2 separate regions of the Homo sapiens genome follow, and region 1 is linked to region 2. A link means that fine-mapping ties the variant in region 2 to the expression of a gene that starts in the linked region. Tissue or cell type: whole blood. Region 2 holds a variant in brackets; the other region holds the start of a gene. All regions are shown on one strand. Distances are between the middles of the regions.

What was found. PIP is the estimated chance that this variant, and not a neighbour inherited with it, causes the effect.
Region 1: EMD starts here. The variant in region 2 is fine-mapped to the expression of EMD in whole blood (TOPMed, PIP above 0.99).

What each region holds. Positions count from the first base shown.
Region 1 is chrX:154,375,415-154,383,588 of GRCh38, forward strand. It overlaps EMD (emerin), which reads left to right and starts at 3,881. Exons shown (of 6, transcript NM_000117.3): 1 at 3,881-4,152; 2 at 4,276-4,380; 3 at 4,528-4,605; 4 at 4,820-4,953; 5 at 5,339-5,388; 6 at 5,468-6,109. The coding sequence starts at 4,071. The coding sequence ends at 5,783. RefSeq lists silencers at 2,972-3,101, 3,122-3,541, 3,552-3,851 and an enhancer at 4,259-4,838.
Region 2 is chrX:154,418,438-154,426,608 of GRCh38, forward strand. TAFAZZIN (tafazzin, phospholipid-lysophospholipid transacylase) reads left to right here. Exons shown (of 11, transcript NM_000116.5): 6 at 1,106-1,186; 7 at 1,268-1,309; 8 at 1,595-1,657; 9 at 1,775-1,827; 10 at 2,221-2,298; 11 at 2,466-3,289. The coding sequence ends at 2,567. It overlaps ATP6AP1-DT (ATP6AP1 divergent transcript), which reads right to left. Exons shown (of 2, transcript NR_103768.1): 2 at 5,943-6,188. Among named protein-coding and RNA genes, the nearest start is that of ATP6AP1-DT, 6.0 kb to the right of the region's middle. RefSeq lists enhancers at 1,151-1,652, 1,653-2,152. The variant G/C (reference allele first, on the strand shown) is at 3,731.

The DNA.
Region 1 (8,174 bases), 43 kb before region 2:
CTACCAAAAATATAAAAATTAGCTGGGCGTGGTGACGTGCACCGGTAGTCTCAGCTGCTCAGGAGACAGATGGGAGGATCGTTTAAGCCCGGGAGTTTGAGGCTGCAGTGAGCTATAATTTCACCACTACACTCCAGCCTGGGTCACACAGTGAAACCCTGTCACTAAACATAAAAAAAAAGGCCAGGTGCGGTGGTTCATGCCTGTAATCCCAGCACTTTGGGAGGCCGAAGTGGGTGGATCACGAGGTCAGGAGTTCAAGAACAGCCTGGCCAAGATGGTGAAACCCCGTCTCTACTAAAAATATAAAAACTAGCCGGGCGCAGTGGCAGGCGCCTGTAATCCCAGCTACTCGGGAGGCTGAGGCGGGAAAATCGCGTGAACCCGGGCGGCAGAGGTTGCAGTGAGCCGAGATCACGTCACTGCACTCCAACCTGGGTGATAGAGACTCCGTCTCAAAAAAAAAAAAAAAAAAAAAAAAAAAGGCCGGGCGTGGTGGATCCCAGCACTTTGGGAGGCTGAGGCAGGTGGATCACGAGGTCAGGAGTTTGAGACCAGCCTGGTCAACACAGTGAAACCCGGTCTCTACTAAAAATACAAAAATTAGCTGGGCGTGGTGGCAGGCGCCTGTAATCCCAGCTACTCGGGAGGCTGAGACAGGAGAATCGCGTGAACCTGGGAGGCGGAGGTTGCAGTGAGCTGAGATTGCGCCACTGCACTCCAGCCTGGGTGATAGAGCTAGACTGTGTCTTGGAAAAAAATAATAAATATAAAAATAAAAATACAAATAAAAAAATAACGTTAACAGCTCAGTGAACAATCATCTACTTGTCATAGACACTGAGGAATGTTTCCATGTTGATATTTTTTCCTCGTAACTCAATCATGTTGGGATTGTAAGTTATACAGCATATACTGCTTGCAAGCCATTCCATCCTTAAGGAGCAACTCAGTTTTCTTATTCTTGACTTAGAATTGGTTGCATCCCGATGTCTCCTCTGCCTGCACTTCCCAGGAAGAACCCCCTGAGGCCCTCAGATTTTCCTGCACACGCCCTTCCCAGACCCTCTGATGACTGCAAATCCCACCCTACCCTTGACGGGAAACTCTCTGAGGCTGTCCAGGTCATCACCCCCAGGGACCAGGTACTGGTGGGGGAATGTTCCATGAATTAATTGCTGTACTCAGGGCTCTTGGACAAGTCTCCCCTGATCGCAGGGTCCTGACTCTCCCTGTATAAGATGGAGGCTCTGCTGCTCAGGAGCCTGCCTGGCTTCCAGTGGTCTGGAGTGGAGCTGCACTGCAATGGGGCTGGACTTAGGCTCCAGGTACCCACAGGGTGGGTGCAGGGGGACCATCACAGTTCAGCTTCCTGGTGCCATCTGTGGTGGGACCTGATTGTGGGGCAAAGGGGTGGGACATAAAAGGCAGAGTGTCGAGGCAGGTACAGAACGGGTGGGGGGTGCTCCTTAGGGAGAAGGCAAATCTAGAATTCCTTGACCTCATAAGGAAACAGCTTGGATCCGTATGGGGAGGGGTGGCATGGGGGAGGATGGAGCAGCACTTAGTACACAGAGGCCTCTGGGAGAGGGGCCAGGATTGCAGAAGGCTTGCAGAGGTGCTGGGGAATCTGATTTTGTCAAAACTAAAAAATCCACAAGGCAGCCTCTGAGCAGCCCAGAGTCCAAACTGCCATCTGTCCCCTCAGCTCTGAAAGATGAGGTGCAAACCCCTGCCCTACCCAAGGCTCTCCTGCTGCACACTGCCAGGCACTGTCTTCATGGACCCACACTTCCTTCCATATTGCTGGGGACACAGTGGGGCCTTGCCAACAGTGATTCCTCTTTGTTAGGATCTTTGCGTGTAGTCAAAACAGGGCCCCATCTCCTCATTACTCCCCCAGGTGTCTACCTCTTCCCACCCCATGGGCAAACCTCCATGGATGACTGGTCTGTGACCCTCACCAGCCAGGCCAGCCATTCTGGACATGACCAGAGCCCTCCCCTCTTCTTCCCTTGTCACCAGCCCTCAACTGTGAAACTACAGATGGCATGTCACCTCTTCATGCTCCCAGTTTGGGGCCTACCCAGTGAGGGGCACACTAGTTGATTCCATACACCCTCAGCTGGCTTTGTTTAGAATGTGAATGTCACAGCCAGGCGCGGTGGCTTATGCCTGTAATCCCAGCACTTTGGGAGGCCGAGCCGGACTGATCACTTGAGGTCAGGAGTTCGAGACCAGCCTGGCCAACATGGTGAAATCCTGTTTCTACTAAAAATACAAATACTAAATACTAAAAATACAAAGCCAGGCATGGTGGCATGTGACTGTACTCCCAGCTACTCGGGAGGCTGAGACAGGAGAATCACTTGAACCCGGGAGGTGGAGGCTACAGAGAGCCAAGATTGCACCACTGCACTCCAGCCTGGGTGACAGAGCGAGACTGTCTCAAAAAAAAAAAAAAAAAAAAAAGAATATGAATGATGAATGTCACCTCCTTTCTCTTCTCCATGAGACAGCCAATATCTGATCAAGGCCCTGGGAATGGGAATCCATAGCTCGCCACCCACGTCTGCCCCCTGCCTAGCCACGCTGCGCTCAGGGACCATTCCGACAGGAGAGGACGCCCCACTTCAGCTCCCCCCAGTGCCCCGGGTGAATGAACGGCATGAAGGGTTAGGCGGGCACACGTCGTCTCTGCACGCATCGCACGGCGCCCTCTGCCCGCGCCCACTGGCGTGCCCGTCGGCATGCCCGGGCCCCTTCGAAGACTGCTTGCTTCTGGAGTGCCAGCGGCCTCCTGGCCCAGTGCCCCATTTCCTCCCGGGTGGAGCGAGGGAGGAGGAAGGGAAGCAGAGGGGTAGGCGGTGGTAAGCAGCAGGCACATGTGCGCGGGCGAGAGCCCCGCAGACTGGGAAGGCGGGCCCATGGCAGGGGGTCTGCGGGGATCGCGTAGGCGCGGGCCTTGCCCTGCAGCCGCTTCCCGGGCGATGCGCACACAAAGCGCCCTCGGCAGCGCCTGGCCCGGGGCCCGCGCTCTCTTAGGGTCCGGGCCCTTCCCGCCGCTGCTGGGGCGGCCGACCGGGATGCGGCCGGGGAACCCTAGGCTCTGGGGCCCTGGGAAGGGGGACGACGGCGGGGAGTAGGGATGTGCAGGGATCGGGCGAAGCCCAAGCGACTTAGGGACCAGAGCCACCCCAAGCGCCGACTTCGCCCGCTCGCACGTCCCGGGTCCCTCGCGCGCAGGCCCCGCCCCTCTCACCCCGCCGCACGCCACAGGGTGACGTCTGGGCTCCCAGCCGCATCGCCCTGACTCCCGCGCGGGCCCCGCCCCCTGCCGCTAGCCAATCTGTGCGTTTGTGACTTTTGGGCCCGCAGCCCCGCCTGCTCCCACAGCGATACCGGTTTGCATTGCCCTGACTCCCGCGCGGGCCCCGCCCCCTACGCCGCTAGCCAATCCATGCATTAGTGGCGTCCGGGCTCGCAGTACCGCTCGCTCCCACCGCGAGACCTTCTGCTCCGCGCCCGCGCGGGCCCCTCCCCCTCCATCGCTAGCCAATCCCCGTTTTGTGACGTATGGGCTCGCGGCCCCGCTCGCTCCCACCGCGAGACCTTTTGCTCCGCGCCCGCGCGGGCCCCGCCCCCTCCATCACTAGCCAATCCCCGTGCTTGTGACATATGGGCTTGCGGCCCCGCCCGCTCCCATCGCGAGACCGGTTCCCACCGCCCTGACTCCCGGGCGGGCCCCGCCCTCTCCGCCGCTAGCCAATCCTCGCGTTGATGACGTTTGGGCTCGCGGCCCCAGCCTCCCAGCTCTCAGGGCACGGCCGGTCTGTGCCGGCTGCTCCCGCGGTTAGGTCCCGCCCCGCGCAGCGCGCGCAGCCTGCGGAGCCAGCGGCCGTGACGCGACAACGATTCGGCTGTGACGCGACAACGATTCGGCTGTGACGCGAGCGCGGCCGCTCCCGATGCGCTCGTGCCGCCCCCGCCGTGCTCCTCGGCAGCCGTTGCTCGGCCGGTTTTGGTAGGCCCGGGCCGCCGCCAGGCCTCCGCCTGAGCCCGCACCCGCCATGGACAACTACGCAGATCTTTCGGATACCGAGCTGACCACCTTGCTGCGCCGGTACAACATCCCGCACGGGCCTGTAGTAGGTACGCGGCGGCGGGCGGGACCCCTTCCGGGCCCCCTCCTCGTGCTCCGCCTCGCGACCTCCCCGCTGCCCTCCCCGCGCGCCTTCCCCGGCCCGCGGCCCTGACCGCCCCGTGTCCGGCCAGGATCAACTCGTAGGCTTTACGAGAAGAAGATCTTCGAGTACGAGACCCAGAGGCGGCGGCTCTCGCCCCCCAGCTCGTCCGCCGCCTCCTCTTATAGCTTCTCTGGTGAGAGCCTCGCCTGTGGGGACAGCCTGGGACGCGGGGAGGATGGGGTCGCGAGGGTGTGGCAGGGGGGCCGGTCGAGAGCGGCACTGGAGAAAGGGGAGGGAAGTCTGGGGGGGCAAACAGTTCTGTCTCCTCCTTTCAATCCAGACTTGAATTCGACTAGAGGGGATGCAGATATGTATGATCTTCCCAAGAAAGAGGACGCTTTACTCTACCAGAGCAAGGGTAAGGCAGGGGTTGGGTGGGCACGCTGGCACCTTCACCCGACTTCGTCAGGGACCCCGCTCACAGGGAGGACCTGAGACCTCAGTCCCAACCACTCCAGCAGCCTTAGGAGGGAGAAACTGTTACAGGTCCCGAAATGGGATTCAGATTAGGGCCATCAGGCCAGGCGGGGCACACCGATGCCCCCTCTGCTACCGCTGCCCCCCTTCCCAAGGCTACAATGACGACTACTATGAAGAGAGCTACTTCACCACCAGGACTTATGGGGAGCCCGAGTCTGCCGGCCCGTCCAGGGCTGTCCGCCAGTCAGTGACTTCATTCCCAGATGCTGACGCTTTCCATCACCAGGTGAGCTGGCTGGCAGGCGTCCTGTACTTGGGTACAACCTAGGGGATCGCGGCTGTGTTTGGATAAATCCAGGGGGGCACTGGGTACAAATGGTGGCTCTTGGGCCTCCGGGGAGACTCTGTGTGACTAGAGCACCCTGGTCTGGGATCTAGGCTCAGACTCTTCCTGAGAGTCCTGGGGGCAAAAGGGGATGCTGGGGCATGAGCACAAGTGGCAAGGCCCCATGGATAAAGGGCTGAACACCCAGAGCCATTCAGGAGGGTGTGGGTTCCTGGCCTCTAACCAAAGGTCAGAGGGGACTGGCTGGGGAAGTTTGGACTGAGGGACATGACAGGGCCATGGTGGCCCTGCCAGCCAGTCCCCTCGCCCTGACTCTCTTCTGCAGGTGCATGATGACGATCTTTTGTCTTCTTCTGAAGAGGAGTGCAAGGATAGGTGCGTAGTGGGGGAGCCCAGGGACGGGCTGGTTCTGGGTCCAGGCTCCTGGCCCACTTGCTCCCCTCTTTTGCCTCAGGGAACGCCCCATGTACGGCCGGGACAGTGCCTACCAGAGCATCACGCACTACCGCCCTGTTTCAGCCTCCAGGAGCTCCCTGGACCTGTCCTATTATCCTACTTCCTCCTCCACCTCTTTTATGTCCTCCTCATCATCTTCCTCTTCATGGCTCACCCGCCGTGCCATCCGGCCTGAAAACCGTGCTCCTGGGGCTGGGCTGGGCCAGGATCGCCAGGTCCCGCTCTGGGGCCAGCTGCTGCTTTTCCTGGTCTTTGTGATCGTCCTCTTCTTCATTTACCACTTCATGCAGGCTGAAGAAGGCAACCCCTTCTAGAGGGAGCCATGAGGGTCTGGGCTTCAGAGCTAGGTCTTTGGGGAAGTCCTGGCTGACTGCCTTAGCAGTGGGGGTGGGGGTGGGGGCAGGGGCAGGGGCTTTATGTGTTTTTGCTTGGGGGGCGCTGGGCCTAGCCCAGAGTAGTGCTTGCTCCCCCTGCCTTGTCCCACCAGGGAGGCAGCAGACTCAGGCCCTCCATGGTCCTCTTTGTCATTTTGTTGACATGCATTCCTCCTTTTGTCATCTTGTTGGGGGGAGGGGATTAACCAAAGGCCACCCTGACTTTGTTTTTGTGGACACACAATAAAAGCCCCGTTTATTTGTAATGCGTTGGCTCTTCCTGGAGGAGAGGGTTGGGCTCCCATGGCAAGGGCCTCTGCGTCTTGGGGCTCCAGGATTGCAATCCGGCTTTGTTGGGTCCGCATTTTTGCTTTAGTCTGGGGATAGGAATCAAATGTTACCCAGAGATGTTTGTGTTTTGTTTGGGAGTTTTATTCCCTAACTCATTCCCCAAAGCACGTGTAACTGCTTATACATATAATCGTGGTACAACAAGGTATATACAGAGAACCCACTTGGAAATTCAGGCAAAGCTGCATGCACGCTACCAGCAGTCTGCGGGTGTTTTAACTGGAAAAAGCTGAAGTCCACCTCGGTGTCCAATGGCATGGGGATGGAAAGAAAATGAGGCGTCTCTGGCACATCATTCTCAGCTCCTGGAACTGCTGCTTGTTTAACATGGGAGAAAAGCTCCAAAGGCTGAAATGCCCCATCATCCCTGGGTGATTGAATTCACCTGCCTATATTCTCACTTAGCTCCCAGGTTTTCTGCCCTGGGTATGTATTTCATAATCTTCAAAGTATATATATATATAATTTTTTTTTTTGAGACGGAGTCATGCTCTGTCACCCAGGCTGGAGTGCAATGGCACAATCTTGGCTCACTGCAACCTCTGCCTCCGGGTTCAAGCAATTCTTCTGTCTCAGCCTCCCTAGTAGCTGGGACTACAGTCGCGCACCACCATACCTGGCTAATTTTTGTATTTTTAGTAGAGACGAGGTTTCACCGTATTGGTCAGGCTGGTCTCAAACTCCTGACCTCAGGTGATCCACCCATCTTGGCCTCCCAAAGTGCTGGGATTACAAGTATGAGCCACCGTGCCCAGCCGAAGTTTACTATATATATTATATATTTATTTATTTTTTTGAGATGCAGTCTCACTGTCGCCAGGCTGGAGTGCAGTGGCGCAATCTCAGCTCATCGCAACCTCTGCCTCCTGAGTCCAAGCGATTCCCCTCCCTCAGCCTCCCGAGTAGCTGGGACTACAGGTGTGCACCACCGTGCACGGCTATTGCTTTGTATTTTAGTAGAGACAGGGTTTCACCATGTTGGCCAGGATGGTCTCCATCTCCTGACCTCATGATCCACCCACTTTGGCCTCCCAAAGTGCTGGGATTACATGTGTGAGCCACCGTGCCCAGTCTACATATATGTTTTTAAGTGGAAAGTGGGTACTAAAACCCAAGACAATGCCACGTGTTGCTGTGCATGCCTGGCTCTATGCTGCTGGCAGAGGGCGGGAGAGCACAGAGGGGCTGCCGTCCACTGCACACGGGCAGGTGGGAAGCAGAGGCCCAGCAAGGGGTGGGGTGCTGGCATTAGTCACCCAAGCCTTTGGCTCCTTGCTGCAGGTAGTGGGACAGCCCAGCCTCCCACACTTGGCACAGCTCCCATGTAGTGCCTGCACATGCATTTGTGGAGGCAGGGCTGGGGCTGGGACCCTCCCTGGCTACTCCTGACCATTTATCTTGGCTGCATCCTCGTCTCTCCTCACGTATATTTTTGGTCCTAAAATAGTACATGGTCCTTGTGTGTTGCAAACATGCAGAAAAGAGTGAATCACTTCTAATTTTCTTACCACTCACAGTTTCAGCCTTTCTTGTTTCATTGCTATGAGCTCCTCTTACCTGGCTCACCCCGCAGTGCCCAGCCACTTGCTGTGTGGATTCCCCAAGCCCCTGCCCTCTGCCCCTCACCATCCCAAGCCCAATGCAAAGACTGATGGCTGGCCCTGCAGCAGGCGAGACCTGGATGGTCCATGGCGGGTGGTAGGCATGGGCAGGGGATGCCACCTCCTCACAGGTCCACCTTAGGGATTCAATGGTCCCATTAATGAGCCTGTACATGGGGGGCAGAACAAACAGGTTGCTACTGCCAGGACCCTAGAAGGACGCAGTGACAGAGCCTCCTGTTTCAGCAGCTGATAAAAACCAAGTACACTGACAGGAAGAACCGAACTCACCTCAGTCCAGTTCCCCCAGGAAGCACTCACTACCTGGGATTGGGGCTGGACTGCAGCCCAGTGTGGCTGGACAGAGGCAGATGGGGCC
Region 2 (8,171 bases):
ACCCCATTCCTTCAACCTCTCCACCTCTTTCCTCTTTTGTCTGCCATGTGATTACTTTTCCATCACCAAGGTTGATGAGATCCTTACTGTGTACTTACTGTCTCCAAGCATCCCCAGGCTTCCAGCCAGCACGCAGCAGCCAACATTGGCTTCAGAAGGAAGGAGGTTTGCATTTCCTTCTCTTGGGTCCAGTGCCATGGTCTCAGGGTTATCTCCAATGTGGAAAGTTGCTAGACCAGGAGCAGTTTGACTCCACTGTTTTTCAGTCTAGCAAGTTTGAGTTTTTCCCAAGCTCTTGATGTGTGTTCAAATGAATGTTCTCCCTTTCCCAAGAGACCTCCCTATAAGGGAGGGTCTAGTTTCCCGGGGTGCCCTGAGAAGAAGGGGTCAGCAGGGGGGAGGAATGGTGGAGGCTGAGGCCTCAGGCAGGTGCCCTGTGAGGAGTGGCTGTGACAAGCGGCTGAGATCCCAGCAAAGGGTTGTTGCCCAGAATCTGGGGCCTAAGCGAGGTTGGAAATCACAAATGCACTTGGTTTCTCTAGCAGCTGGCACATAGTAGGATCAGCCCAGGAGTGGCACCTTCAAAGAGAAAGGAACGCATGAGGCTCCGAGAGCGGTCGGCTGGCAGCCAGGGCCTGGCTGGGGAGGGAGGGCAGGTGGTGCGCTGACCTGGGGATCTTTGAGAGTGTGCAGGAGTATGTGGCTGAAGCGGCCCAGCTGGTGAGCCACTGAAGATGGGGGTCATAGGTAGATGGAGGAATTGCCAGGTCAGAATCTCGGTAGGAGATGACTTGAGCTGATGCTGCCTGGCACATAGGGGTTTAGAAGATATTAGGAAGGAAGCCCCACAGCGTGCCCAAGTGCCATGCAGGCCCTGGAGACGGTCATTGGAGGGCGTCTGTGGATGGCGCAGTGGGGGATGGGAAGTCCCTAATCTGCTGGGGCTTTCCCAGCAAGCAGGGACTGAGGGGGATAGTCCCCAACACATGGGCCCCAGGGAGAAGGGCCTGTTTCATTGAGGTTTGGAGAGTGTTGAGGGTAAGCTAACCTGTCACCCCACGCCCCCGAGAATGGTTACTGATAGGGAGAGGCCTTTTCCTTGCAGGAGATGGCGTCTACCAGAAGGGGATGGACTTCATTTTGGAGAAGCTCAACCATGGGGACTGGGTGCATATCTTCCCAGAAGGTCAGCAGGGCTGACTGGGTCGAGCCCCCCCAGTATGAGCGGGATGGGCTCCCAAGCCTCGCCTCTGTGCTCTCTCACCAGGGAAAGTGAACATGAGTTCCGAATTCCTGCGTTTCAAGTGGGGTAAGGGCTGCTGGTCTCTGGCCACAGCCATCCTCCCGGCCCAGAGATGGCCCTGTGGGCCCCTGGCTCCCGCCCCCTCGGGCTGGCTTGTATGGGGGTAGATGGGCGTGTTTGTAGCGCCAGGAAGGGGACAGGTGCTGAGACTAGGCCTGCCTCTCGCAGGGGCTTGCCCAAGGGAGCTGAATTGAACTGGAGGATGTCGGGGGTGGCAGTGGCCAGAGGCTGGCACAGAAGCTTGGCTCAGGGCCCAGCTTATGCTAACATTTCTACCTCCCCCCTGGGCAGGAATCGGGCGCCTGATTGCTGAGTGTCATCTCAACCCCATCATCCTGCCCCTGTGGCATGTCGGTGAGCCTGGGGACGGGGACAGAGAGATGGCATCTGGGGTGGGGGGCCTGGGACTCCCTCTGGTCCCAGGCTGCCCTGCTCCACCCCACGTCTGGCCTTCTGTCCACTGTGCTGCAGGAATGAATGACGTCCTTCCTAACAGTCCGCCCTACTTCCCCCGCTTTGGACAGGTGGGTGGGGACTGCTGACCTTCGGCTGTCTGCCTGTCTGCTGTCTGCTCCGTGTCTCCCACTCAGCACTATGGAGGCCAGCTGCAGGAGGAGCTGAGCATGAGGCTACAGCAGGGGACAGAGTGGAACATAGACAGGGACTTCCTGGCACCGAGACATTAAAATGAGAGCAGAGGAAGTCAGGCTGGGGCAGAGGTGGGCTGTGGGGTCAGGACAGGACAGGTCATCTACAGCACAGGACCCAGGACCAGGACCTTGTTTTAGAGGAAGAGTGGCCCCTGGGGAGTGTGTGGCACAGCAGGGCCGGGGCTTAGCTTCTGGCTCCCGGGTTGCTTGGGCTGGGGCTGTGGGCACTCCTACTGCTCCTCATCACTCTTGGCGGCCACCCCACAGAAAATCACTGTGCTGATCGGGAAGCCCTTCAGTGCCCTGCCTGTACTCGAGCGGCTCCGGGCGGAGAACAAGTCGGCTGTGAGTTTCCTCCTGGGTCCCCCGTAGCTGTCCCCGGACCCCCTGCTGCTGGCTTCCAGCAGGGTGCCTCCACCCTCTCCATCCCGTCACCCTCCCAGGGCACCCTCCCAGGGCACCTTGGCCAAGCTTCCCGAGGGGTGCAGGCCATCCCTGGTCCTTTCCCTCAGGTGGAGATGCGGAAAGCCCTGACGGACTTCATTCAAGAGGAATTCCAGCATCTGAAGACTCAGGCAGAGCAGCTCCACAACCACCTCCAGCCTGGGAGATAGGCCTTGCTTGCTGCCTTCTGGATTCTTGGCCCGCACAGAGCTGGGGCTGAGGGATGGACTGATGCTTTTAGCTCAAACGTGGCTTTTAGACAGATTTGTTCATAGACCCTCTCAAGTGCCCTCTCCGAGCTGGTAGGCATTCCAGCTCCTCCGTGCTTCCTCAGTTACACAAAGGACCTCAGCTGCTTCTCCCACTTGGCCAAGCAGGGAGGAAGAAGCTTAGGCAGGGCTCTCTTTCCTTCTTGCCTTCAGATGTTCTCTCCCAGGGGCTGGCTTCAGGAGGGAGCATAGAAGGCAGGTGAGCAACCAGTTGGCTAGGGGAGCAGGGGGCCCACCAGAGCTGTGGAGAGGGGACCCTAAGACTCCTCGGCCTGGCTCCTACCCACCGCCCTTGCCGAACCAGGAGCTGCTCACTACCTCCTCAGGGATGGCCGTTGGCCACGTCTTCCTTCTGCCTGAGCTTCCCCCCCACCACAGGCCCTTTCCTCAGGCAAGGTCTGGCCTCAGGTGGGCCGCAGGCGGGAAAAGCAGCCCTTGGCCAGAAGTCAAGCCCAGCCACGTGGAGCCTAGAGTGAGGGCCTGAGGTCTGGCTGCTTGCCCCCATGCTGGCGCCAACAACTTCTCCATCCTTTCTGCCTCTCAACATCACTTGAATCCTAGGGCCTGGGTTTTCATGTTTTTGAAACAGAACCATAAAGCATATGTGTTGGCTTGTTGTAAAATGTCTCTGGCCTCTCTGTAGGGGTGAAAATGGGAAGTGACTGCTGGACAGAAAGGCTGAACCCTTAGTGCCCTGGGGACATGGAGCACACTTGAGCAGATGGGCATCAACCTCTTCTGCACCAGTCACTTAAGGCTTCAGTTATTGTCTGTAATCCCTGTAACAACATTGCAGAAATAGGGATTAATCTCATTTTGCCAAGGAGGTGGAGTGAGGCTAATGAACTTGCTTCAAAACCCAAAGCTAGCCAGGTAGATTGGGGCCACACTTCAGAGAGACCCAAGTGTGGAGAATCAATTGGATCCTACCTGGGCTGCATCATAGGTGGGAGAGGAGCTCTGAAGAGCCCGGCAAGTAGCCAGCCATGAGCAGTGCACGCTGTGATCAGGAGGTAGGATTGGGGTTGCCCAGATGGAGCTGGGGGTCCTGGGTGGGAGCAAAG[G/C]CAAATCCAGGGTGGTGGCGTAGACACAGTATTAAAAATACTATAACAGAAACGTGGAAAGAAAGAAAATATAGAACCACCAAAGATGAGCCAGCAACAAGAGAAGATTCAGACAACCAGGTCTTTCAGCAGTGTTGGTGCCTAATTATTTCAAAATAAAAGGTTTTTAAAAAAATGACCAAAAAGGGAAAAAAATTACCTGGGAAAAAACAAACACTTGTAATTAAATATAGATAGAAGCAGCTGGGCACCATGGCTCACGCCTGTAATCCCAACACTTTAGGAAGCCAAGGTGGGCGGATCATTTGAAGTCAGGAGTTCGAGACCAACCTGGCCAACATGGTGAAACCCCATCTCTACTAAAATACAAAAATTAGGCCAGTCGCAGTGGCTCACACCTGTAATCCCAACACTTTAGGAGGCCGAGGCAGGCAGATCACCTGAGGTCAGGAGTTTGAGACCAGCCTGACCAACATGGAGAAACCCCGTCTCTACTGAAAATACAAAATTAGCAGGGCATGGTAGCGCATGCCTGTAATCCCAGCTACTTGGGAAGGCTGAGGCAGAAGAATCGCTTGAACCTGGGAGGCGGAGGTTGCGGTGAGCCGAGATCGAGCCATTGCACTCCAGCCTGGGAAACAGCAGCGAAACTCCGTCTCAAAAAAAGAAAAAAAAAAGGCTGGGCCTGGTGGCTCACACCTGTAATCCAAGCACTTTGGGAGGCCGAGGCAGGCAGATCACGAGGTCAGGAGATCGAGACCATCCTGGCTAACATGGTGAAACCCCGTCTCTACTAAAAATACAAAAAAATTAGCCAGGCGTGGTGGCGGGTGCCTGTAGTCCCAGCTACTCTGGAGGCTGAGGCAGGAGAATGGCGTGAACCCGGGAGGCGGAGCTTGCAGTGAGCCAAGATCACACCACTGCACTCCAGCCTGGTCGACAGAGTGAGACTCCGTCTCAAAAACAAACAAAAAACCCCCAAAAAATTAGCTGGCGTGATGGCGCACGCCTGTAATCCCAGCTACTCAGGAGGCTGAGGCAGGAGAATCACTTGAACCCAAGAGGCAGAGGTTGCAATGAGCTGAGATCGTGCCACTGGACTCCAGCCTGGGCGATAGAGGGAGACTTCATCTCAAAAAACAAACAAACAAATAAACAAACAAAAAAACACACCAGACACAGTGGCTCATGCCTGTAATCCAGCACTTTGGGAGGCCGAGGCAGGCAGATCACAAGGTCAGGAGATCGAGACCATCCTGGCTAACATGGTGAAACCCCATCTCTACTAAAAATACAAAAAAAAAAAAAAAAAAAATTAGCCAGGCGTGGTGGCAGGTGCCTGTAGTCCCAGCTGGAGGCTGAGGCAGGATAATGGCGTAAACCCAGGAGGTGGAGCTTACAGTGAGCCGAGATCGTGCCACTGCACTCCAGCCTGGGCAACAGAGCGAGACTCCGTCTCAAAAAAAAAAAAAAATTAAAAATAAAAGAAAGAAAAAGGAATATTTTGATACATGCTATCAAATGGATACTCTCAAAGGATTTTCAAGAAACATTATGTTAACTGCAATAAGCCGGAAACAAAAGGCTGCATATTATATGATTCCACTTATATGATGTACTTACCGGCTTCAGATCCAGAGTCAAAAAGTAGAAGGTTGGTTTCCAGGGCCTGGGAGGATGGGGGAATGAGAAATTGTATAATGGGGACAGAGCTTTAGTTTGGGAAGATGAAAAGAGTTCTGAAGATGGATGGTGGTGATGACTGTACAACAGTGTGAACGTACTTAATGCCACTGAACTGTACAGTTAAAAGTGGTTAAGGCCGGGCGTGGTGGCTCACACCTGTAATCCCAGCACTTTGGGAGGCCGAGGTGAGCGGATCACCTGAGGCCAGGAGTTTGAGACCAGCCTGGACAACATGGTGAAACCCCCATCTCTACAAAAAAAAAAAAAAAAATTAGCTGGGCATGTTGGTGGGTGCCTGTAATCCCAGCTACTCAGGAGGCTGAGGCGGGAGAATCACTGAAACCCGGGAAGCAGAGGCTTCAGTGAGCCAAGATTGTGCCATTGCACTCCAGCCTGGACAACAAGAGCGAAATTCCGTCTCAAAAAAAAAAAAAAAAAAGGCATTTCACAGAAGAGGAAACACAAAAGGCAGAGTGTGCATGGTATGGGTTTCCTGTGGCTGCAGTAACAAAGTGCCAGAGACTGGGAAGTTTAAAGCAACAGAAATTTATTCTCTCCCAGTTCTGAAGGCCAGAAGTCCGAAATCAAGGTGGCACCAGGGTGGGTTCCTTCTGGGGCTGTGAGGGAAAGCCAGCTCCAGGCCTGTCTTCTGGCTTCTTCCGGTGGTTCCCAGCAATGCTCCGTGTTCCTTGGCTTGCAGAGGTGTCATTCCAATCTCTGCCTTCAGCTGCGTGCAGTGCTCTCCTCCCTGTGTCTGTCTCTTTTTCTCCTCCTTTAAAAACACCATGCATTGATTGAACTAGGGGTCACCCTTATGCAGTATAACCTCACCTTAACTTGATTCTGTCTGCAATGACTTTTATGGGGACACTACTCAACCCAGTGCATATACTCTATGACCTAGCAATTCCCCACCTAGTTATATACCTATTGAAATGAACATCTATGTTTAACAAAAGACACATACATCGGCTGGGCGCAGTGGCTCACGCCCATAATCCAAGCACTCAGGCCGAGGCGGGCAGATCTTGAGGTCAGGAGATAGAGACCATCCTGGCTAACACAGTGAAACCCCGTCTCTACTAAAAATACAAAAAATTAGCTGGGCATGGGGGTGGGCACCTGTAGTCCCAGCTACTCAGGGGGCTGAGGCAGGAGACTGGCGTGAACCCGGAAGGCGGAGCTTGCAGTGAGCTGAGATCACGCCACTGCACTCCAGCCTAGGTGACAGAGCGAGACTCCGTCTCAAAAAAAAAAAAAAAAAGAAGAAAAAGAAAGACGTATACATAATTGTTCACAGCAGCATTAGCCATAACAGCCCAAATGGGAAACCAACCAAATGTCAACAGTTGAAGGACACAATCAATGGTGACGTATTCATCCAGGGGAATACTATGCAGCAACATTGTTACATGCAGCCACTTGAATTAATCTGCCAATGTTGAGCAAAGAATCTAGACACAAAATAATACTTCCCTTCAGAGTGGAGGAGAAGGCTGAGTGCGGTGACTCACACCTGTAATCTCAGCACTTTGGGAGGCCAAGGTGGGTGGGTCACCTGAGGTTAGGAGTTCAAGACCAGCCTGACCAACATGGTGAAATCCCGTCTCTACTAAATACAAAAAATTAGCCGGGCGTGGTGGCACATGCCTGTAATCCCAGCTACTCGGGAGGCTGAGGCAGGAGAATTGCTTGAATCCGAAGGTTGCAGTGACCCGAGATGGCGCTATTGCACTCCAGCCTGGGCAACAAGAGCCAAACTCTGTCTCCAAAAAAAAAAAAAAAAAAAAGAGTGGAGGAGGGAAAAATATTATACTGAATAATTTCCTTTATTTAAAGCCTCAAAACAGCCAAAACAACACATCCCATCATTTTTAGGAATGCATGCTTAACTGGTCAAACTATAAAGACCAAAGTGATTAGCAAAAGAATCAAGTTCATGGTCACATTGGGAAGTGATAGTAAGGGTATGAGAGGGGCTTTCAGGGCAATGATATTCAAATTCTTGACCTGGGTGATGCCATGGAACTGTCTGCTTTGATAAGCATTACACTGTACATCTTTATTTTGTGGGTTTTTTTTTTTTTTTTTTTTTTTGAGACAGAGTTTCGCTCTGTCACCCAGGCTGGATGGAGTACAATGGCATGATCTCTGGTCACTGCAACCTCTGCCTCCTGGGTTCAAGCGATTCTCCTGCCTCAGCCTCCCGAGTAGCTGGGATTACAGGCGCATGCCACCATGCCCGGCTAATTATCTTGTATTTTTAATAGAGACGGGGTTTCACCATGTTGGCCAGGCTGGTCTCGAACTCCTGCCCTCAGGTGATCCGCCCGCCTTGGCCTCCCAAAGTGCTGGGATTACAGGCGTGAGCCAATGCGCCTGGCCTACTTCTTTTCTTTTTTGGGTTACGTTTCACCATAGAAGTGCTTTTTTTTTTTTTTTTTGAGACAGAGTCTTGCTCTGTCGCCCAGGCTGGAGTGCAGTGGCACGATCTCGGCTCACTGCAAGCCCCATCTCCCGGGTTCACGCCATTCTCCTGCCTCAGCCTCCCGAGTAGCTGGGACTACAGGCGCCCGCCACCACGCCTGGCTAATTTTTCATATTTTTAGTAGAGATGGGGTTTCACCGTGTTAGCCAGGATGGTCTTGATCTCCTGACCTCGTGATCCGCCCGCCTCGGCCTCCCAAAGTGCTGGGATTACAGGCATGAGCCAAAGTGCCCGGCCCTTTTTTTTTTTCTTTTTTTTGAGATGGAG